Linked DNA regions of Homo sapiens: regions 2 and 3 are each linked to region 1. Evidence: fine-mapped expression QTL. A gene starts in region 1. Each other region holds a variant in brackets. All regions are shown on one strand. Distances are from middle to middle. Region 1 holds the start of TAF1B (TATA-box binding protein associated factor, RNA polymerase I subunit B). Region 2 overlaps TAF1B (TATA-box binding protein associated factor, RNA polymerase I subunit B). Region 3 overlaps TAF1B (TATA-box binding protein associated factor, RNA polymerase I subunit B).

The links. PIP is the estimated chance that this variant, and not a neighbour inherited with it, causes the effect.
Region 2: its variant is fine-mapped to the expression of TAF1B in monocytes (TOPMed, PIP 0.99).
Region 3: its variant is fine-mapped to the expression of TAF1B in subcutaneous fat (GTEx, PIP above 0.99).

What each region holds. Positions count from the first base shown.
Region 1 is chr2:9,839,492-9,847,674 of GRCh38, forward strand. It overlaps TAF1B (TATA-box binding protein associated factor, RNA polymerase I subunit B), which reads left to right and starts at 3,983. Exons shown (of 15, transcript NM_005680.3): 1 at 3,983-4,068; 2 at 5,729-5,827. The coding sequence starts at 4,051. RefSeq lists a silencer at 4,264-4,343.
Region 2 is chr2:9,912,295-9,920,477 of GRCh38, forward strand. It overlaps TAF1B (TATA-box binding protein associated factor, RNA polymerase I subunit B), which reads left to right. Exons shown (of 15, transcript NM_005680.3): 12 at 865-955; 13 at 6,747-6,817; 14 at 7,304-7,526. Among named protein-coding and RNA genes, the nearest start is that of GRHL1, 35 kb to the right of the region's middle. RefSeq lists an enhancer at 5,134-5,635. The variant C/T (reference allele first, on the strand shown) is at 4,629.
Region 3 is chr2:9,924,585-9,932,767 of GRCh38, forward strand. The region is part of intron 14 of TAF1B (TATA-box binding protein associated factor, RNA polymerase I subunit B); the gene reads left to right. Among named protein-coding and RNA genes, the nearest start is that of GRHL1, 23 kb to the right of the region's middle. The variant A/G (reference allele first, on the strand shown) is at 4,687.

The DNA.
Region 1 (8,183 bases):
GCTGGAACTACAGGCATGCCCACCACACCCAACTAAGTTTTAAAAAAATTTTGTAGAGATAGGATCTCTCTATGTTGCCCAGGCTGATCTTGAACTTCTGGGCTGAAGCAATCCTCCCACCTCGGCCTCTGAAAGTGCTAGGTTCTAGGCGTGAGCCACTGTGCTCAGCCTAACAATGTCTTCTGATGAATCGAAGTTCTTAATTTAATGAAATCCAGTGTAATGACCTTTTCTCTTAGGAGTAGTGCTTTTTGTGCCCTGTTGATGAAGTCTATTCCACACCAAATCATAAAGATATTTACCACTTTTTTTTTCTAGAAGCTTTATGGTTTTACCTATCACATGTAGGATCTATTTGAATTAATTTTTGTGTACAGTGTGAGAAAGGGGTCAATAATTTTCTCATATGCATGTCTGATTGATTCAGAACCATTTATTGAAAAACTATTCTTTCAGCTCACGCCTATAATCCCAGCACTTTGGGAGGCCGAGGTGGGTGGATCACTAGAGGCTATGAGTTCGAGACCAGCCTGGCCAACATGGCAAAATTCCATCTCTACTAAAAAATACAAAATTAGCCAGGTGTCATGGCACATGCCTGTAGTCCCAGCTACCTCTACTTGGGAAGCTAAGGCCCGAGAATTGCTTGAACCTGAGTGGCAGAGGTTGCAGTGAGCCGCGATTGTGCCATTGCACTCCAGCCTGGGCAACAGAGCAAGACTCTATCTCAAAAAAGAAACAAAGAAAAAGGAGAAAAGCTATTCTTTCCTCACTGAATTTTAGTAGCAGCTTTGTTGTAAATCAGATTATTTTATATGTACTTATGAGTCCGTTTCTGGACTTTCTATTCAGTTCTGTCAATTTTTTGGTCTATCCTTGCATCACACTAGATTACTGTATGATTTATTTTTTTCTCTTTTATTTATTTTTTAAATCTTTATTCTTTTTTCTCTACTTTTTCTTTTAACATTTTTTAATTTTGAGAAAAGGTCTTGCTTTGTCATGTAGGCTGGAATGCAGTGGCGTGACCACAGCTCACTGCAGCCTCAACCGATCCTCCCACCTCAGTCTCCTAGGTACCTGGGACTATTGGACTGTGCCACCACACCCAGCTAATTTTTTAATTTTTTGCAGAAATGAGGTCTCATTATGTTTCCCAGGCTGATCTCAAACTCCTGGGCTTAAGTGTTCTGTCCACCTTGGCCTTCCAAAATGCTGAGATTACAGGCTCGATGTTAAACAAACTTGCATTCCTAGAATAAACCTAACTTGGCTGTGATTTATTATCCTATTTATATATTGCTGAGTACAACAGGATGTACATTCAATTTACTGATGTTTTGTTTGGAACTTTTGCATGTATGTTTATGAGAGGAATTGCTTTTTAATTTTGACTTTTCTTGAAATATCCTTGTCAAGTTTTGGTGTCAAGGTCATGCTTGTCTCCTAAAATGTACTGGTAAATGCTCTTCTTTTTTCATTATTTGGAAGCATCTGTATAAGATGGGTGTTATTTATTTCTTTTTAAAATTATTATTATTATTGAGACAGAGTCTCTCTCTATCAACCAGGCTGGAGTGCAATGGCATGATCTTGGCCCACTGCAACCTCTGCCTCCCAGGTTCAAGCAATTCTTGTGCCTCAGCCTCCCAGGTAGCTAGGATTACAGGCGTGCAACACCATGCCCAGCTAATTTTTGTATTTTTAGTAGAGACGAGGTTTTGTCATGTTGGTCAGGCTGGTCTCGAACTCCTGGCCTCAAATATTCTCCTGCCTCAGCCTCCTAAAGTGGTGGGATTACAGGCGTGAGCCACCATGACTGGCCTATTTCTTTCTTAAAAATTTGGTAGAATTTGGCCAGGCGTGGTGGCTCATGCCTGTAACCCCAGTACTTTGGGAGGCCGAGGTGGGCAGGTCAGGAGTTCAAGATCAGCCTGGCCAATATGGTGAAACTCCATCTCTACTAAAAATACAAAACTTAGCCAGGTGTGGTGGTAGGCGCCTGTAGTCCCAGCTATTTAGGAGGCTGAGGCAGGAGAATTGCTTGAACCTGGGAAGCGGAGGTTGCAGTGGGCTGAGATGGTGCCACTGCACTCCAGACTGGGTGAAAGAGCAAGACTGTCTTAAAAAAAAAAATTGGTGGAATTTTCACATTTATTGGCCTAGAGTTGTTCAGAATATGCCCTTATGATCTTTTTAATGTCTGTGGTATTTGCAGTGATGCCCCTACATATTGGTTAGTGATGCCACTGATATCAGTTTATTTTGATTTTCTTTGCTCCGTTGCTCAGACTGGAGCACAGTGGCCCGATTATAGCTCACTGCAGCCTTGAGCTCAAGCAAACCTCCCGTCTCATCCTCCCAAGTAGCTAGGACTGTAGGTGTGCATCACCAAGCTGGGCTCTTTTCTTTTTGATCAATCTTTCCAGAGTTTATCGAATGTATTAGTATTTTCAAAGAGCTAATGTTAGTTGGTTGAGACTCTCTTCTTAAAAAATATCTTTTAGGCTGGGCGTGGTGGCTCACGCCTGTAATCCTAGCACTTTGGGAGGCCGAGGTGGGCAGATCACTTGAGGTCAGGAGTTCGAGATCAGCCCAGCCAACCTGGTGAAACCCCGTCTCTACTAAAAATACAAAAATTCGCCAGGCGTCGTGGCGCGTGCCTATAATCCCAGCTACTTGGGAGGCTGAGGCAGGAGAATTGCTTGAACCTGGGAGGTGGAGGCTGCACTGAGCTGAGATTGAACCATTGTACTCCAGCCTATAGAGATGAGGACTCAATATGTTGGGCAGGCTGGTCTCCAACTCCCGCCCTCCAGCAATCTGCCCGCCTTCGCCTCCCACAGTGATGGGATTACAGGCACCAGCCACCACAGCAAGCCTTTGTGGAGCCTATCGAAGCTTGCTTTCTCTTTTATTAATTTCTCTTTTTTAAACATTTCCTTCATCCCATTATTTTTCAGTTTAATCTTTTTTCTAACTTCTTGGGATGTACGATTATATCAAAAATCCTCTTCTCAATGAGATCTCTCTTGAACATCACATTTCAGACTGAAATCACCTTGTTGTTCCCATTCTCCTCTCCTCTTTATTTTTCTCCTTGGAACTCACCACCACTTAACATACCACATATTTTCCTTATTTATTTTTGTCTCTCCCCATCAGAATACAATCTCCATGAAGGCAAGGACTTTTGTTTACTTTGTTCACTGCTGAATCCCCAGGACACAAACCAGTTCCTGTTTAATAAATAAAACAAGGAATGAATGTGTTAGATGAAGAAACAATAAGAGCTAAATTTATTGAGCACTTACTGAGACTCAATTATATTCACTCATGCATTTATTTATTCAGTTATTTACTTATGCAGAGAAGGGGTCTCGCTTTGTTGCCCCGGCTGGTCTCCAACTCCTGGCCTCAAGCAATCCTCCCGACTCAGCCTCCCCAGGATTACAGGCGTGAACCAGCACGCCCGGTGGAGACTCAATTATAAGGGGCTCACAGATAACATCTAATTCTTACAGAGGAGTAAACTGAGGCACAAGTAAGCAGGAGAGCCGTGATTAGAAACCTAGGTCTAACTCACAGCCCGTGAGCTTTCCTCCAAGCCCCGAGGCTTCCCCTTAAAAAAGCCAGCAAGGGGCGAGACTCGGAGGGCAGAACCCACGGAGGGCGGAACCCACAGAGGACAGAGCCCGCGCTCGCGAGCACGGCCTTGTCCGACCCCCCGTGCCGCCGGAGGAGCAAGTCTGTCTTGGAATGAATGATCGTCGGAACGGAGCTTGATCAAACCACTCAGCAGTAGGCGTCGCCCACTTTCTTATTGGTTGGTTTTGGTTCTCAAGAGTAGGAAAGTTAGGTAGTCCGCGAGGGGTCTGCGAGCTTTGCGGAGCCTCGCCCCCGAGCGCGCGGTTTCCCTGCCGCGCAGGCGCACGGAATCCTAGGCGCGGATCTCGCGTTTCCGGCCGGAAGCTTCTCCAGCCTTTCCCGGAAGCTGCGCTCGCTACCCGGGTAACGGGTCCCGGCTGTGGAAGCTCCCGCGGCGCCGCGATGGACCTCGAGGAGGCGGTAAGGAGGCGGTGCACCTGGCGGGCCACGATCGCCGGGGCCGGAGGAGAGAGAAGCTGAGGAGGAGCGGCGGAGGACGCCGCGGGTTGGGGCGGCGACGCCACCGGCTGGAGGAAGGCGGGGCGGAGGGCTGCAGGGCGGGCTAAGGACTGGGGCTGGCCGGCCGCATGCGCGCGCGGCTTTGGTAAAGAGGCTGGAGTTTCTGGCTCGGCGAGGTTGTGGGGGAGGGAGGGTGTGGTGTTTGTCGTTATGGGTGTGTTTAAGGATGAAGCTGTGGGTTTTGTGGGGTGGCCACCCACAGGGCTCATCCTCGAGACTGGACCACCCACAAGTTCCCTTTAATGCTGGGGTGGGTGAGGGAGGGGCAGGGGTTGGAACCTGAGATGCCGCCGGGTAACCCCTGTCGGTCTCTCCGGGAATCCTTGCCACTGTCTCCAGCAGGGATTCTAAATTCGGGTTTGGGAACTCCCCAAATTGTCCAGCTATCATTCATCGTAGTGTTAGTACGGGGTCACTGAACACTTTACCAAGTTGCCAAAATTGATTTGGCATGCATTTTGTTTTGTTTTAGGTACTACGTAAAATGGCACATTTTTGTTTTTTATTTTTGAGACAAGATCTCACTTCTTCCCCCAGGCTGGAGTACAGTGGCACGATCACGGCTCACTGCAGCCTCGAATCCTGGGCTCGAGAGATCCTTCCGCCTCAGCCTTCCAATGAGCTAGGGCTACAGACATGCACCACCAAGCCCGGCTAATTTTTTTTTTTTTAATTTTTTGTAGGGGCAGGGGTCTCGCTATGTTGTCCAGACTGGTATTGAACTCCTGGGCTCAGGCGATCTTCCTGCCTCAGCCTCGCAAAGTGCTGGGATTATAGGGGTGATCCCCCGCCCTCGGCCAAATGGCACACGCTTTGATGGTATTAAATGATACTCGATAATTAGATCAATGCTAACAACAAGTCAAACTCCAAAGAGTTGGGGATCAGAGAATTAGGCCTGTATATACAGGAGCAGTACGGTCTTATAGTAGAGGCTTAAAAAATGTTTACTGATGATGGTTGGCTAACTTCTGTAAATGCTAGGCTGATGAAATGAATAATTGTAACTCACCATTAGCTAGCGTATACCCAGACTAGGGATCATGTCTGGTCTGTTTTGCTCACCATTGAATCCCCAGCACCTAGTAAAAAGCCTGGTACACACATAGTTGATACCCCTTATGCTGCCGAGTGAATAAATCGAAACTTGAAACCATTACAAATCTAGTTCCTCTGTGGTATGCGCTTTTAGTGTCCTGGAGGAGTTCCAAATTGTATTTGCATTTTTTAAAAGTCTTCTCTATACTTGTTTGTCATCTTCTCACAGTATTTTCAAGGAGCTTTGTTTACTCATCTTTGGTTCCAGTTTACCCCTACTACCTCCTTTTCTTTTTTTTTCCTGTCACACTGCATATTTCAATAAATTTTCTCCAGTAGTTTAATTCGGTTTCATACCGCGCCTCTCCTTGTTTGCGGATAATCTCTCTGACATATTTTTTATTGTCTATGATTTTTTATTAATAAAGTTGCCAGGAACCCATTAAATAGAACTGCAAGGTTTAGGTACGATGTATTGAATGTGGCTTGATGGGAACACCTTTTCTGTCCTCTTCTCCCATAGGAAGAGTTTAAAGAACGCTGTACTCAGTGTGCTGCTGTCTCATGGGGTCTTACTGATGAAGGCAAATATTATTGCACTTCTTGCCACAATGTTACAGAGGTAAGTAACAAATATCATTTATGAATTTGCTTATGTTTTAAAAATTGCCATTTCAGCCTGATATGTAGTCTAAGTCCCAAAGAATTGGGTTGATTTTTGTCACTCATGCAATGCCAACATTCCAAGGATGCATGTGGTCTTAGGTACTTACACATAGGTTAAGGGATTTGTGAATTAGATTGAGGATGAGTTTTTGAAATTATGTTGGGCCACATTTATAAATGATTTCTTATTCAGAGTATGTGGTTGAGGGAAATAATTAAAATTGTACTTAGAAGATGATGCATTTCTTTTTATCAGTTAGTACTTATTTACATTTTTTTAAATGTGTCATGGTGGCTTAGAGGTTTGGAAGATGGAATGTTAGAAAACTTGAGGACTGGGCCGGGCGCAGTGGCTTACGCCTGTAATCCCAGCACTTTGGGAGGCTAAGGCAGGTGGATCACCTGAGGTCGGGAGTTTGAGACCAGTCTGTCCAACAATGGGAAACTCCGTCTCTACTAAAAATACAACAATTAGCCAGGCGTGGTAGCATGCGCCTGTAGTCCCAGCTACTTGAGAGGCTGAGGCAGGAGAATCGCTTGGACCCAGGAGGCGGAGGTTGCAGTGAGACGAGATCACGCCACTGTACTCCAGCCTGGGCAGCAGAGCAAGACTCTGTCTAAAAAAGAGAAAGAAAGCTTGAGGACTGTTGGGAATATTGGAATTATTCTTCGTTATCCTTTTACCTTTGTATAGTACCTTACAGATTACAAAGTTTTTGGATCCATTATCTCATTTCCTCCTCATCACTAACTGTGAGAGCCTATTGATAGGGCTCAGAAGTTGAGTGAGTTTGCCAAAGTTACCCAAGTACCAGGACTTGAATGTGAGTCTTCTGACTTCAGTGTTCATTTTACCCATCACACCTGCCTCTTAAAGTAGAGATTGTCATATTGTCCTGTGTAACCTTGGTAAACGAGGCTACCTTCACATTGTGAGTGCTAGGTCCTATTGTGGTGAACACACCTTCGGGCCAGCATCACCAAAGTGATCAAGGGTGTAGAGAGTCTGCTGCTGGACAGGCTAAATGTGCCAGGACTCTCCTCAGTGGAAAAGGATTTCCTCAAAGTCTACAGATCCAGGAAGGAACAAATGTTACCTTCACCATACAGGCTTAAGAAAGGCAAATTTGGGACATTAAAAGTAACTGTGTAGACTTCTGCTTCTGGCTAAGATGGACTAACAGAGACCAGACTTACCTTTGTCCCCTAAACAATGAAAAACCTGGACAAAATATATTAAATGAGTAAAAGGAAAAACATTTTCCCTTGACAAAACTGGTGAATTGAGCTTGCAGGTGTGTCACACAAGTGCTTTTCCTTGAGGCAGTGTTCTTGAGTCTGCAGCTGGAATGCTTATCTCTGCTTCCTGTTTAGTCATACAGAATATTAAAAAGATATGTGCTCACTTGATGAAATTGTTGGGGTGATGGAGATATTTATTATCTTGATTATAGTGGTGGTTTCATGGAGATATATTTTGTGTGTGTGTCTGTGTGTGTCAGATTGTGCACCTGACAGATGTGCAGTTTGGTCCTCACCCTCATTGTGTAGTAAGGAGCTAGCAGTTTTACTCACTGTTGCTTTTGTACTATAGTGCAGGTGTAAACCCAGTGAAGAAAGATTATGTCTAATGGAGTATTTGCCATTAGTAGATGAAGTCAGCATACTATTTTTATAGGAATTGAACTACATTAACTAATTGCTTTTCTATTTTTGATTTTGATACTGTTTCCGTTTGATTCTGTTTGATCAAATCTGCTGCAGTCATTTTTTAGTTTGAAAGATCCTAATACTTCTCCCTAGCTCCACATTTGGAAGACTGTCAACTCCTGTGGAGTAATTTGTCAAGAATGTAGAGTTCATGAAGGTGGACAACATCTTTATAAAGACCAAGAACCTAGCTCAGTGCCTTCCTTTCAGACGACAGGCTTAAAGGAAAAAAAAGTTACGTGTTGCACAACTTCAGTAGTTATTCTTGGCTTTATGGCGGTCCAGGCATGTTCTTCACATGGACTGTGAGAATATAATGTGGTAGGGGCTCCCTGGAGCTGAGCAGTGTGGCGATGGTGATGTTGAAATACAGTGGGTGGGGAATGGCAGGTGAGACAGTTACAGCTGTGAAGAATGGAAGTCATGGTGCAACTTGCCCTATTTTTCTGCCCCTTTTATTGCCCCCTCTTCCTTGGCATGTAACTGTCAAGCTCCAGACACGCTCTGCAATCTGGGAAAGGCCTTCCAGATTGATAAAGGAACCAAAATGTTATCCTAGTATATTTTATCCAGGAAAAAAAAATGTAAGGTCATAAATCTGT
Region 2 (8,183 bases), 73 kb after region 1:
ATAGTGACTAGCCTAAGAGCAACTCAGTGAAGTGTGGTGAATATGTGGATTATTAAATTCAATTCCAGTTTCTTAATGTTCTGTTCTCATTAGGATTTATGTTCATTGGTTTTAGAGGCTTGAATTTATTGGAAGCAATCAGTTTGTGTGTTCTTTCCAGAATATGTGCAAAATAAAATACTACTTTCTGTACATTGCTCATGTTGGCTTCTATGTAGAGTGAAAGGTTGAACTAGCTGTCTTCTAACATCCCCTCTAATGCTAAAAGATGATAATTTACTACGTAGACATGTAGAATAAACAGAGCGCTTTGACCTGTCTCCCTGTAAGCCTCAAAATAAATCCATGCTGTCAGCAGGGCAAAGATCACTGTCATTTCTCTCTGCTCTGTCTGCTAATCACCATCCCCTGCCCCCAGCATTATTGATGGGGAGATTGAGGTTTAGAAAAGTTGTGATTTACTCCAGGTCCAAGAACCGTGAGTTCTATTGATTACTATAGTTTTCCTCTGTTCTTACAGTTCTTTCGGTAGTTTCCTCTCTTCTGTGGCTGTATGGTCTACAAGGTCATATTGGATTAAACAATTATCATATTGACCAGTTGAAAAGATTTTTAGTTAGGCATGGAAAGAGACTGCCTTCGCCAGAGAATAATGGAGAATAATCCCTGTATGGAGTGAAAGAGTGAGGAGTGAGTTTTTATACTTTACTGCATTCAGTTCTGTTGTCTCTCTAATGTCTACATCTTGATCACACACTCACACCAACTGCCCAGTGCAGTCAATTAATGAAAACTCAGATGAACAATGTATATTATTATAGTGTGGTTTATTTGGTTAATAATCTTGGATTTTATTTCTTTCAGATAAGCCATGGTTTGATTTCAGAAAGTGGTACCAAATTATGAAGAAAGCTTTTGATGAGAAAAAACAAAAATGGGAAGAAGCAAGGGCCAAGTATGTTCTCCTTCCTGGTTTAGATGCACCTGCCTTACTTCTGTGTCTGTTACTTTACATTTGAAAGCTGAAGCTTCATCAGTATACACTTATCTACATTGTGACTTTTTTTTCTGGAAATATTAGCCCTACACTCTAATTAACTTTTCTCTTTTTTACATTACTATTAATCAAAGTTTAGATTTGATGTGGATTTCACCAGTGTTTTTATTAATGTCCTCTTTCTGTTCCATGATCCAATGCAGGATACCACAGTATACTTTTTATAATTTAACTTTTTATAATTTGCATGAGACTTGCCTATATTTCTAATACTCCTCCCTCTTCCCCTTTCTCAAATTTAGTCATTTCTCATCTATGCTTCCCAATATTAAAAAGATTACAAATGTTACCTTGCAACATATGTAATTGGAATGTTCCCCCAAAATAAAGATCCCTGTGAAAATTAAAACAAAGGAAAGCAGATAGCAAGTCCATTTGATTCAGCCAGTGTCACTGCCTTTCTTTGAACTGTCATTCTGATGTGGGCTCATTGTGGTAGGGTAGAAGAGAGCATAAGCAGCGCTAGGTTTGAATCCTGTCTGCATTACAAGCTAGCTGTGTGCCCATGGGCCAGTTACTTAACCTTTTGCTGAGTCTGAGTCTCTTTGAGGCTTTGAAGAAAAAGGTAACATCTCTGTATTTAATGTAAATTTACAGTAATACTAATTCGACTCAGTAATTTTATATCCTTTGAGAAAAATCAAGGTTCCCCATATTAGTTGAAATGAGAATTTGTTCAGCTCCTATTTCTTCATCAGTAAAATAGACATAATAATGCCCACTTATATACTGTAATTAAGACCCAATTTTCCAGTATGAGAGTAGAACTAGATTATTTTTCCTCTAAATTTCAGAGGGCTTTTAAATAGAAAAACAGACTCTTGGGGTAGAAAAGGCACTGTGGAGATGATCCTTTCCATAGCAGGGAAGTGTGACAGGTTCCCTCTCAGTAGGCAGGATTGATGCACAATGAAGAAGAGGGGTGGAGGTGAATTTATCCCAACAGCCCATGGATTCCCAGGAAACCAGGCTCCCTGCCTCCTCATCAGAGAAGGAGTGACTCTTCAGTCAGTGGCTCTCAGTGGGCACAAGAATAGCAGCAGGAACAAGATTTTGTTATGTGTCTTAGGTCATTTTGGAGAATCAGCCTTCCTTTCTGTGGTGCTAGCTGGGGTTAGTCCTGACGGATCCTAAGGACTGGGTGCCTAGGGGCCATTCCTCCCTGGGGTCTCAGTGGTGACAGGGCTTTCCTTACCCCAAGCCAGACACCAACCTACACTTTAAACATAGCTCTTGGAGGCCCAGTTCATTATTGCAGTGTTATGTCAGTTGCACATTTAAGACTTACCGGCTTTTAGCTACTTTAGGGAATAATTTATTGGCCAAAGAAAGTAAGTCTGGTTATAAAATGGCACTTTCCAGGGAGGTACCGGGCCCCAAGGTGGAGGCTGTCGAGGGGACCCGTTTCCAAGGTCCTTCTTCCTAGAGTATGTGCTGAGGGCTGACACACACGTGCAGTGTGAGTCACTGCTGAGTAATATGCGAAGCACTACCAACTGCTGCTCAGGCCCAGAGCTCAGTGCGTGGTGGCCACCTGTCGGTTTCACCCTTCCCCACCCCCATGTTGACATACATGTCTAATTTTTCTCTTTGTTTCTCTGAATATTATCATCCATGTTGTCAGATGAAAATTATTAAAACATTTTCTATATCTGAGCATGGGTTCCTATGCATGAGATTATGAAAAACACTAATAAACAATAGTTGAAAACCTAAAACAGCGTAAGAGGCTACTTTGATGACTTCTAGCTGTTATAGAAGATGTTGAGAAGAACATGGAGAAAAATTAAGCCTGTGCAGAAAATCTCTATGCCCTAATTGGTGTATAGTGATATCTCATTATGGTTTTAATTTGAGTTCACTGCTAATTTTTGCCTTCCCTTTTGGGTTAGGCAGAAATTTCTTAGATGTGACACCAAAAGCATGATCTATAAAAGAAAAAAAATTGGTAAATTGGACTTCATCAGAAGTAAGAACCTCTGCTCCACAAAAGAACTTAAACGAATAAGAAGCTACAGACGAGGAGAAATTAAATGCAAATCACATATCCGTTTAAAGATTTGTATCTAGAGTATATAAAGAATTTTTAGGCAATAAGAAAAAAACTCCATTTTTTTAAATGGGCAAAATATTTGAAAAGACGTTTTACCAAAGATGATATCAAGATGGCATGTGAAAAGATGTTTAACATCATTAATAGGGAAATGCAAATTAAAACGACAATGACATATCATTATATACCAATTAGAATGGTTCAAAACAAAACAAAAACAAAAACTGATCATTCCCAGTGTGGGAATTCAAAATGGTACCGCTATTTTGAAAAGTTGTCAGTTTCTCAAAGTTAAACATACATTTATTATGTTATCCAGTGTTTTTCACTCCTAGATATTTACCCTAATGAAATGAAAACAAGCTCACACAAAAATCTGCATAGGAATGTTTCTAATGGTTTCATTCATAATTGCCAAAAACTGGCAACAAACCACATGTTCTTCAACTGGTGACTAGCTAAACTGTTGTATCCGTACAGTGGAATACCATTTAGCAGTACAGACTTCTTATGCATCCAGCAATATGAGTGAATCTTAAATGCATTATGCTATGTGAAAGACTCAAAAGGTTACTTATGCTATGATTCCATTTATATGACATTCTGGAAAAGGCTAAACTATGGGGACAGAAAAACAGACCAGTAGTTGCCTGAGATCAAGGGTTGACTGTCAAGGGATGTGGGAGATATTTTGGAGTGATGGAACTGTTCTACGTAGTAATTGTGGTGAGTACACACATGCAACTGTATGTGTTTGTCAGTGCTAGCAGAACTACACTGAAAAGAGTAAATTTTACTGAATGTAAATTATACCTTAATTTTTAAAAATGAGGAAACATATGCAGACAGACAAGAGAGAAATATATAGATAACATGTAACTGGAAAACATGGTTTGTGATGTGTCTCCTTTTGTAGTTTTATGTAATGAGAAAAGGCAGGCAAGGTAAAGTCAATTTTGGAAGAAGCTTTCATTTCAGGTATCTGAACACTTAAGAGTATTTTTATTTTAGATCACCTTTCCCATTCTTGGGGCATATCACCCCAAGGGCATCATAATGCTTTCTTGATCTGTGGCATGATTGCCACTTGTGTAGGCATTTACTGTAAATGCATAAGAAACTTCCATTTAGATTAGGTATTCACAAGGAATGTTTAACAGTGAGTGTGCCCAGGGATTGGGATTAGACTGTTCAGGGAACTTCTTTATCCTTTGAGATTTTATTATTTAAGAAAATTAATGGCAAAAAAATATATTTTAAAGAATCGCTAACTCATTTACCATAACATTAAATGACAAACTCTCTGATATATTTTAAATGTGGTATGGTTCACTAAAGTTTAGTTTCACATGATTTTCAGGAAACCATCTCCTGTATAACATTAATTACATCTCTACTGCTACCTAATGATTAGAAAAATTTCCTTTCTGTTCTTTTTTTTTTTTTTTTTTGAGATGGATTTTTGCTCTTGTTGCCCAGGCTGGAGTGCTGGAGTGCAATGACACGATCTCGGCCCAC[C/T]GCAACTTCCGCCTCCCGGGTTCAAGCAGTTCTTCTGCCTCAGCCTCCCAAGTAGCTGAGATTACAGGCATGTGCCACCATGCCCAACTAATTTTGTATTTACTAAAGAGACGGGGTTTCTCCATGTTGGTCAGGCTGGTCTCAAACTCCCAACCTCAGGTGATCCTCCCACCTCAGCCTCCCAAAGTGCTGGGATTACAGGCATGAGCCACTGCGCCCGACTCCTTTCTGTTCTTAACATTTAATATCATTGCAGAAATTCAAAATAAAAAGTCAACATCTGTTTTATGTATAGTCATGATTTTACTGACTTGATCAAGTATTTTTTAAAATTCTTGAAAAAATCAGTTCTTAAATCGGTTAAAATGATTATTTGCTAAATGATATTACTAAAATATTGTTAAAAATGTGTGCTTTTATATACGTATTACTTCCTAGTATTAAAAATAAATGGTGAGAAATTATTATAGATGCTACAGATTTTTAAAATATTTGTATTTCTGGCTTCCTATTTTTAATCTGTTTTTCTGGAAAGTTCACAGATATTTCTTGAGTATCTACTAGCCAGGCACTTTGTCAAGTACTAATAATAATTCTAATTATTGTATAGGATTTAAAGAACCAATACATACAGCATCTTATTCTTCAGAATAACCCTGTGAAAGTAGAGGATAAGTTTAGAGATGCTAAATTCATTTCTTTGTTCATTTATTCACCCAATTATTCTTCAACAAATGTTTAAATGAGTTCCTACTCTCTACCACTCCCTGACAACACTAGGGGCATAAGGATGGCTGAGACAGTCTCTGCCTTTAAGAACCTCCATAATTTGTCATTCAAGGTCATGCCACTAGAAAATGGTGGAGCCGGCCGGGCGCGGTGGCTCACGCCTGTAATCCCAGCACTTTGGGAGGCCGAGGCGGGCGGATCACGAGGTCAGGAGATTGAGACCATCCCGGCTAAAACGGTGAAACCCCGTCTCTACTAAAAATACAAAAAATTAGCCGGGCGTAGTGGCGGGCGCCTGTAGTCCCAGCTACTTGGGAGGCTGAGGCAGGAGAATGGCGTGAACCCGGGAGGCGGAGCTTGCAGTGAGCCGAGATCCCACCACTGCACTCCAGCCTGGGCGACAGAGCGAGACTCCGTCTCAAAAAAAAAAAAAGAAAATGGTGGAGCCAGGTCTTCTGATTCAGTACTCTTTCTTGTTGCCACAGTGTCTTTCAAAATAAGAAAATGGCCTGGGATTAAGAAGAAGGTGGATTTTTAAAATTATTATAAGTTATGAAAGTTCTCTGCTCTAGGGAACACAGAAATAATAAAAATGAGACCAAGAATGAACCTTGTTGTCTTTGTTCCAGAGCAGCAGCGTCTGCTTGGCAAAGTTTAGCAACAGCCACTAGAACTAGAAATAGAACATGTCACTTCCTTTTGGAGTCTGGAACTGATCACCCTCATCTGTAGGAACCTTAGATGGCTCTTAGTGTTTGTCCTGGAGGGAACCCCAAGAGCCAGAGCAATCCAGGATCCCCATTTTACAGTGGAAACTCCCTGGCCATCCTTCCCTTGGCAAGAATAGGCTGAGTCAGAACAGGGACTACTGGGACTGTGTCATCCTGGAATCCAGTCTTTTCCTCTCCTTTACACCAGGAATAGAATAGATTTCCTGGCATCAGATGCCAGAGAGACGCATTTACTGTTCACTGTGTGTAAGTTATCAGAATCAGAAGTACTACTAACAACTCTCAGCAAAAAGGCATTGGGACAAAGGCAATGAGGAACAGTTGTTTCTGAGGTAGCTTCACTTTATGAGAATGAGCAGCAAGGGAAATTTATGGTGAAGGAAACAGTTTCTATGTTTTTTGTATAATTAATAGCTTCTTCAAGATGTCACAGCATCTGGGTGGCTTTTGAGAGGAGCACACCATTCTCTTGGCCTGGGCTGTTGGTCAGTGGTTCCTTCTAGGGCCTAAGTTCAATAGGCAATATAGACATGTGCCAGTAGGCCATTCCAAGCCAGAGCTATAACGAAATATCAGAAATCTCAGATAGTGCTTCAGACAATGTGTTTATGTCCGTTTCATCTCCGTCCTGCTCCAGCTGTTTCTTTACCTTGTACAGGTACCTGTGGAAAAGTGAAAAGCCACTCTACTACTCATTTGTCGACAAACCAGTAGCATATAAAAAAAGAGGTAAGTCAAATTTTGTCTTTTTAATACCAAGTAGCAACACAGTTGTAGAAAAATTAAATATCTGGACTTGAAATGTTGAATGCTTAAGTTTTTTACTTTTTTTAAACAAATGTTCCAGGGCACATGTACATCCAAAGGAGCATCATACTCTGCAAGAAATCTCTGCAGGAATCTACTTCAGGAATATGTCGTTCTTCAAAACAGAGCCTCAGTTCCTGCCAAAATCTAAAATCCTAAATCGTTATGATTTTGGAAATTCTTTGCTTATAGAATTCCTTTTAGACTGTACATTCTTTTTGAAGTAAGGTTTCCCCCATGCACCTCATCCAGTTTCATTTTCCCTTAACGTTATCCTGTTACATTACTGTGGTACATCTGCGAAAACTAAGGAACCAATATTGGTACATTCCTATCAAGTAAATTCCAGGCTTTATTTGTGATTTAACATTACTTGTTATTTTGTTTCCTTTTTTTCTCCGGTTCCAGAAATGGTGGTGAATCTACAGAAACAATTTAGCACACTGGTCGAGTCAACAGCAACTGCTGGAAAAAAAAGCCCTTCAAGTTTTCAGTTCAACTGGACTGAAGAGGACACTGATAGAACGTGTTTCCATGGACACAGCCTTCAGGGAGTCCTGAAAGAGAAAGGCCAATCACTGCTGACTAAGAATTCATTATATTGGCTTAGTACACAGAAATTCTGCAGATGGTAATAATGCTTTTAGAAAAAGTCACATATAATTGAAGTAGTTGACTGTATAAGAGCCAGATAGGTTTTTTGTTGGAATTAGAAGCTGGTGAGCTTAAAGTCACGAAAATCAGAATTATACATTGAGTCTTGTGTAGGAGTTCTAGGAAAGCTGGTAAAAATCAAGAAAGAGGATACAGGGCAATTAGCACAAACTATCCCCTCTAGCTAAATTAACCTGCAGTGTGGCAGGCAAGCAATAGAAGTGGCTGTAAATGCTGATCAGGAGAATGTGCTGTATTTTTTAGTACATATCACTTCTCTGAGTCAGTTACCTTTATCATGTCTTTCTACCTCTTAATACTTCCTTAAGTATTTCCTAAAAATAAGGATATTCTCTTAAGTGACCACAGTACAGTTATCAAACTCAGGAAACTTAATACTGATACGATACCTTTATCTCACCCACAGTCCATATTCCAATTTTCTCATTAGACCCCCAGTGTCCTTTTATAGCAGGATCAAGTTCAGGAGTAGGTATGGCATTGATTGATTTTATCTCTTCGGTCTCCTTTAATCTGATTGTCCCTCAGCCTTTCTTTGTCTTTCATGACATTGAGCTGTATTTTTCAGAAATGTCAGTGATGTTACACAATGTTTCTGAGTATGGTTGTGATG
Region 3 (8,183 bases), 85 kb after region 1:
TATTAGCATGTTTTCTAATGTTTCTACAATAAAAACAGGCAACTGTAATAATATCATTGTAAAGGCTAAAATATGCCGAATATGCTCTAAGACAACCATTGAAAATGATTACAATGAAAAGTGATGCTTATGAGAGCAAATATTTAGCTATGTATCGAATTTTGTTAGGCAGAAGGACTCATTTCTGAGTGTTCAGAAGAAACAAAACATTTGCTGTAAAATTGTGAAAACACTCAGAGCTTGGGAACTAAGCAGAGAAAGGCCACAAGAGTACTTCAGGTATGGGAGGCTGTTTATTCTTCCTAGCTGAGGCAGAGTTAACAATTTCAATGAATTGAAATGCCCTTACTATTCCTCCAATTGTTATAACAGTTGGCTAGGTCAGAAGACCTGACTTCTTGTAGGTGGTGGCCGTCACCTCCCTGGGAGTTCCACAGATGAGGCAGAGCAGTGGTCTTTAGTTGTATTCCACAGGAAATGGAAGTGCTTTGGCAGCCCCACAAAAATGTGATTTTAATTTTTTAAAAATTATTTTTTAACTATTTTTTTAAACTATAGTGAAAAAACAGTACTCAGGCCGGGCAGGGTGGCTCACACCTGTAATCCCAGCACTTTGGGAGGCCGAGGTGGGCGGATTACGAGGTCAGGAGATCGAGACCATCCTGGCCAACATGGTGAAACCCCATCTCTACTAAAATACAAAAAATTAGCCGGGCATGGTGGTGCATGCCTGTAGTCCCAGCTACTCAGGAGGCTGAGGTAGGAGAATGGCATGAACCCGGGAGGCGGAGCTTGCAGTGAGCCAAGATTGTGCCACTGCACTCCAGCCTGGGTGACAGAGTGAGACTCCGTCTCAAAAAAAAGAAAAGTGTAAGTACTGTTATTTTTTTCCGTTTTACAGATGAGAGAACCAAGAGTAGTTACCCATAGTCACAGCTAATGGGTGGCAGAGGGTTTTGTTTGGTTGGTTGATTGGTTTTGGGTTTTTTTGTTTTGGGGTGTTTGTTTTTTTTTTGAGACAGAAGCTCGTTCTGTCACCCAGGCTAGAGTGCAGTGACACAATCTTGGCTCACTGCGACCTCCCTGGGTTCAAGCGATTCTTGTGCCTCAGCCTCCCGAGTGGCTGCTACTACAGACATGCGCTACCACCCCTGGCTAATTTTTGTATTTTTAGTAGAGACGGGGTTTCATCATGTTAGTCAGGCTGGTCTCAAACTCCTGACCTCGTGATCTGCCCGCCTCGGCCTCCCAAAGTGTTGGGATTACAGGCATGAGCCACTGTGCCCAACCAAGTGGCAGAGTTTTATGGTGCAAACATAGACATTCAGGAATTTAGGGCCGTATATATTATGTAAATCATAATATCTCAATGTCTATAGCTTCTATATGTTATTTCTTTACTTGCTTTTTAAAGTTGATAATGGGAAATTTCTGGTATACTCAGAAGTAGAGTAGTATAAAGAACCCCCCGTCTCTGTCACTCAATCTCAGCAACTGTGACATGGCAAGACTTGCTTCACCCAGGCTCCAGCTTACTCTACCCCTCTGCCCCCCATTATTTGGAAACAGATCTCAAACATCATATTTTTTAAAGTAAAACCATAATACCATTAATCAGATATAAAAAATTAAGTCATTTCTTAATATTCTCCAATATGCAGTCAGTGATTAGATTTTTCCCTATTGTCATAAAATTTTTTAAATGAGTTTAACTCAGAATCCAAATCAGGCCCATATATTGCAAGTGGTTGACATGGCTCATAAGTGTTTCAGTTCTTAAGGCCCCACCTCTTTATCTCTCTCTTTTTTCTTCTTACAATGTACTTACTGAGTAATCCTGGTCATGTGTCCCATACAATTTCTCATAGTCCAGATTTTGTGTATAGACAGTGCCATATGATGCCATCTAACCTCTTCCTCTATCCCTGGATAGCCTATATGTTGATGTAGTTAGTTTGAGATTGGCAGTTATGGCCAGGTGCGGTGGCTCATGCCTGTAATCTCAACACTTTGGGAGGCTGAGGTGGGTGGATCACCTGAGGTCAGGAGTTCGAGACCAGACTGGCCAACATGGTGAAACCCCATCTCTACTAAAAATACAAAAATTAGCCGGGCATGGTGGTGCATGCCTGTAGTCCCAGCTACTTGGGGGGCTGAGGCAGGAGAATCACTTGAACCTGGGAGGCAGAGGTTGCAGTCAGCGGGGTGAGACTCTGTCTCAAAAAAAAAAAAAAAAAAGAGAGATTGGCAGTTAACATTAGTTAGAGATTTGATCAGATTCAGGTTTAACTTTTTTTTTATATATATACTTTAAGTTCTAGGGTACATGTGCACAACCTACAGGTTTGTTACATAGATACATGTGCCATGTTGGTTTGCTGTACCCATCAACTGGTCATTTACATTAGGTATTTCTCCTAATGTTGTCCCTCCCCCTGCCCCCACCCCACGACAGGCCCCAGTGTGTGATGTTCCCCGCCCTGTGTCCAAGTGTTCTCATTGTTCAATTCCCACTTATGAGTGAGAACATATGGTGTTTGGTTTTCTGTCCTTGTGATAGTTTGCTCAGAATGATGGTTTCCAGCTTCATTCATGTCCCTGCAAAGGTCATGAACTCATCCTTTTTTATAGCTGCATAGTATTCCATGGTGTATATGTGCCACATTTTCTTAATCCAGTCTATCATTGAAGGACATTTGGGTTGGTTCCAAGTCTTTGCTATTGTGAATAGTGCCACAGCAAACATACATGTGCATGTGTCTTTATAGTAGCATGATTTATAATCCTTTGGGTATATACTCAGTAAGGGGATCACTGGGTCAAACTGTATTTCTAGTTCTAGATCCTTGAGGAATTGCCACACTGTCTTCCACAATGGTTGAACTAGTTTACAGTCCTACCAATAGTGTGAAAGCATTCCTGTTTCTTCACATCCTCTCCAGCACCTGTTGTTTCCTGACTTTTTATTGATTGCCATTCTAACTGGTGTGAGATGGTATCTCATTGTGGTTTTGATTTGCATTTCTCTGATGGCCAGTGATGATGAGCATTTTTTCATGTGTCTGTTGGCTGCATAAATGTCTTCTTTTGAGAAGTGTCTGTTCATATCCTTTGCTCACTTTTTGATGGGGTTGTTTTTTTCTTGTAAATTTGTTTAAGTTCTTTGTAGATTCTGGATATTAGCCCTTTGTCAGATGGGTAGATTGAAAAAATTTTCTCCCATTCTGTAAGTTGTTCACTCTGATGGTAGTTTCTTTTGCTGTGCAGAAGCTTGTTAGTTTAATTAGGTCCCATTTGTCTATTTTGGCTTTTGTTGCCATTGCTTTTGGTGTTTTAGTCATGAAGTCCTTGCCCATGCCTATGTCCTGAATGGTATTGCCTAGGTTTTCTTCTAGGGTTTTTATGGTTTTAGGTCTAACATGTAAGTCTTTAATCCATCTTGAATTAATTTTTGTATAAGGTGTAAGGAAGGGATCCAGTTTCAGCTTTCTACATATGGCTAGCCAGTTTTCCCAACACCGTTTATTAAATAGGGAATCGTTTCCCCACTTCTTGTTTTTGTCAGGTTTGTCAAAGATCAGATGGTTGTAGATGTGTGGTGTTATTTCTGAGGCCTCTGTTCTGTTCCATTGGTCTATATCTCTGTTTTGGTACCAGTACCATGCTGTTTTGGTTACTGTAGCCTTGTAGTATAATTTGAAGTCAGGTAGTGTAATGCCTCCAGCTTTGTTCTTTTTGCTTAGGATTGTTTTGGCAATGCGGGCTCTTTTTTGGTTCCATATGAACTTTAGTTTTTTCCAGTTCTGTGAAGAAAGTCATTGGTAGCTTGATGGGGATGGCATTGAATCTATAAATTACCTTAAGCAGCATGGCCATTTTCACGATATTGATTGTTCCTATCCATGACCATGGAATGTTCTTCCATTTGTTTGTGTCCTCTTTTATTTCGTTGAGCAGTGGTTTGTAGTTCTCCTTGAAGAGATCCTTCACATCCCTTGTAAGTTGGATTCCTAGGTATTTTATTCTTTTTGTAGCAATTGTGAATGGGAGTTCACTCATGATTTAGCTCTCTGTTTGTCTGTTATTGGTGTAAAGGAATGCTTGTGATTTTTGCACATTGATTTTGTATCCTGAGACTTTGCTGAAGTTGCTTATCAGCTTAAGGAGATTTTGGGCTGAGATGATGGGGTTTTCTGAATATACAATCATGTCATGTACAAACAGGGACAATTTGACTTCCTCTTCTCCTAATTGAATACCTTTTATTTCTTTCTCCTGCCTGATTGCCCTGGCCAGAACTTCCAACACTATGTTGAATAGGAGTGGTGAGAGAGGGCATCCCTGTCTTGTGCCAGTTTTCAAAGGGAATGCTTCCAGTTTTTGCCCATTCAGTATGATATTGGCTGTGGGTTTCTCATAAATAGCTCTTATTGTTTTGAGATATGTTCCATCAGTACCTAGTTTATTGAGAGTTTTTAGCATGAAGGGCTGTTGAATTTTGTCGAAGGCCTCTTCTGCATCTATTGAGATAATCAGGTGGTTTTGTCATTGGTTCTGTTTGTTGTTGTTGTTGTTGTTGTTGTTGTTGTTTAGAGACGGAGTCTCGCTCTGTCGCCCAGGCTGGAGTGCAGTGGCACAATCTCGGCTGACTGCAACCTCCGCCTCCCGGGTTCACGCCATTCTCCT[A/G]CCTCAGCCTCCTGTGTAGCTGGGACTACAGGTGCCCGCCTCCACACCTGGCTAAGTTTTTGTATTTTTAGTAAAGACGGGGTTTCACCGTGTTAGCCAAGACGGTCTCAATCTCCTGACCTCGTGATCCACCCACGTCAGCCTCCCAAAGTGCTGGGATTACAGGCGCGAGCCACCGTGCCTGGCCTTTGGTTCTGTTTATGTGATGGATTATGTTATTGATTTGCGTATGTTGAACCAGCCTTCCATCCCAGGGATGAAGCCGACTTGATCGTGGTGGATAAGCTTTTTGATGTGCTGCTGGATTCAGTTTTCCAGTATTTTATTGAGGATTTTTGTATCAATGTTCATCAAGGATATTGATCTAAAATTCTCTTTTTTTGTTGTGTCTCTGCCAGGCTTTGGTATCAGGATGATGCTGGCCTCATAAAAATGAGTTAGGGAGGATTCCCTCTTTTTTCTGTTGATTGGAATAGTTTCAGAAGGAATGGTACCAGCTCCTTGTTGTACCTCTGATGAGTTCGGCTGTGAATCCGTCTGGTCCTGGACTTTTTTTGGTTGGTAAGCTATTAATTATTGCCTCAATTTCAGAACCTGTTATTGGTCTATTCAGAGATTCAGCTTCTTCCTGGCTTAGTCTTGGAAAGGTGTACATGTCCAGGAATTTATTCATTTTTTCTAGATTTTCTAGTTTATTTGCATAGAGGTATTTATAGTATTCTCTGATGGTAGTTTGTATTTCTGTGGGATCGGTGGTGATATCCCCTTTATCATTGCATCTATTTGATTCTTCTCTTTTCTTCTTTATTAGTCTTGCTAGCGGTCTATCAATTTTTTTCATCTTTTCAAAAAACCAGCTCCCGGATTCATTGATTTTTTTAAGGGTTTTTTGTGTCTGTATCTCCTTCAGTTCTCCTCTGATCTTAGTTATGTCTTGCCTTCTGCTAGCTTTTGAATTTGTTTGCTCATGCTTCTCTAGTTCTTTTAATTGTGATGTTAAGATGTCGATTTTAGATCTTTCCTGCTTTCTCTTGTGGGCATTTAGTGCTATAAACTTCCCTCTACACACTGCTTTAAATGTGTCCCAGAGATTCTGGTATGTTGTGTCTTTGTTCTCATTGGTTTCAAAGTACATCTTTATTTCGTTATTTACCCCATAGTCATTCAGGAACAGGTTGTTCAGTTTCCAAGTAGTTGTGCGGTTTTGAGTGAGTTTCTTAATCCTGAGTTCTAATTTGATTGCACTGTGGTCTGAGAGACCATTTGTTGTGATTTCTGTTCTTTTACATTTGCTGAGGAGTGCTTTACTTCCAACTATGTGGTCAATTTTGGAGTAAGTGTGATGTGGTGCTGAGAAGAATGTATATTCTGTTGATTTGGGGTGGAGAGTTCTATAGATGTCTATTAGGTCCACTTGGTGCAGAGCTGAGTTCAAGTCCTGGATATCTATCCTTGTTAACCTTCTGTCTCGTTAATCTGTCTAATACTGACAGTGGGTTGTTAAAAGTCTCCCATTATTATTGTGTGGGAGTCTAAGTCTTTGTAGGTCTCTGAGGACTTGCTTTATGAATCTGAGTGCTCCTGTATTGGGTGCCTATATATTTAGGATAGTTAGCTCTTCTTGTTGAATTGATCCCTTTACCATTATGTAATGGCCTTCTTTATTTCTTTTGATCTTTGTTGGTTTAAAGTCTGTTTTATCAGAGACTAGGATTGCAACCCATGCTATTTTTGCTTTCTATTTGCTTGGTAGATCTTCCTCCATCCCTTTTTTTTGAGCCCATGTGTGTCTCTGCATGTGAGATGGGTCTCCTGAATACAGCACACTGATGGGTCTTGACTCTTTATCCAATTTGCCAGTCTGTGTCTTTTAATTGGGGCATTTAGCCCATTTACATTTAAGGTTAATATTGTTATGTGTGAATTTGATCCTGTCATTATGATGTTAGCTGGTTATTTTGCCTATTAGTTAATGCAGTTTCTTCCTAGCCTTGATGGTCTTTACAATTTGGCATGTTTTTGCAGCGGCTGATACCGGTTGCTCCTTTCCATGTTTAGTGCTTCCTTCAGGAGCTCTTGTAAGGCAGGCCTGGTGGTGACAGAATCTCTCAGCATTTGCTTGTCTGTAAAGGATTTTATTTCTCCTCCACTTATGAAGCTTAGTTTGGCTGGATATGAAATTCTGGGTTGAAAATTCTTTTCTTTAAGAATGTTGAATATTGTCCCCCGCTTTCTTCTGGCTTGTAGAGTTTCTGCCGAGAGATCAGCTGTTAGTCTGATGGGCTTCCCTTTGTGGGTAACCGACCTTTCTCTCTGACTGCCCTTAACATTTTTTCCTTCATTTCAACCTTGGTGAATCTGACAGTTATGTGTCTTGGGTTGCTCTTCTCAAGGAGTATCTTTGTGTGGTGTTCTCTGTATTTCCTGAAGTTGAATGTTGGCCTGCCTTGCTAGGTTGGGGAAGTTCTCCTGGATAATATCCTGCAGAGTGTTTTCCAACTTGGTTCCATTCTCCCCGTCACTTTCAGGTACACTAATCAAATGTAGATTTGGTCTTTTCACATAGTCCCATATTTCTTGGAGGCTTTGTTTGTTTCTTTTTACTTTTTTCTCTAAACTTCTCTCTTACTTTATTTCATTAATTTGATCTTCAATCACTGATACCCTTTCTTCCACTTGATCGAATCGGCTATTGAAGCTTGTGCATGTGTCACATAGTTCTCATGCCATGGTTTTCAGCTCCATCAGATCATTTAAGGTCTTCTCTACGCTGTTTGTTCTAGTTAGCCATTCGTCTAATCTTTTTTCAAGGTTTTTAGCTTCCTTGCGATGGGTTTGAACATCTGCCTTTAGCTCAGAAAAGTTTGTTATTGCCGACCTTCTGAAGCCTACTTCTGTCAGCTCGTCAAAGTCATTCTCCATCCAGCTTTGTTCCGTTGCTGGCAAGGAGCTGCAATCCTTTGGAGGAGAAGAAGTGCTCCAGTTTTTAGAATTTTCAGCTTTTCTGCTCTGGTTTCTCCCCACCTTTGTGGTTTTATCTACCTTTGGTCTCTGATGTTGGTGACCTACAGATGAGGTTTTGTTGTGGATGTCCTTTTTGTTGATGTTGATGCTACTCCTTTCTGTTTGTTAGTTTTCCTTCTAACAGTCAGGTCCCTCAGCTGCAGGTCTGTTGGAGTTTGCTGGAAGTCCACTCCAGACCCTGTTTGCCTGGGTATCACCAGTGGAGGCTGCAGAACAGCAAATATTGCTGCCTGATCCTTCCTCTGGAAGCTTTGTCCCAGGGGGCACCTGCCTGTATGAGGTGTCAGTCGGCCCTTACTGGGAGGTGTCTCCCAGTTAGGCTGCACGGGGGTCAGGGACCCACTTGAGGAGGCAGTCTGTCTGTTCTCAGAGCTCAAACACCATGCTGTGAGAACCACTGCTTTCTTCAGAGCTGTCAGACAGGGACGTTTAAGTCTGCAGAAGTTTCTGCTGCCTTTTGTTCAGCTGTGTGC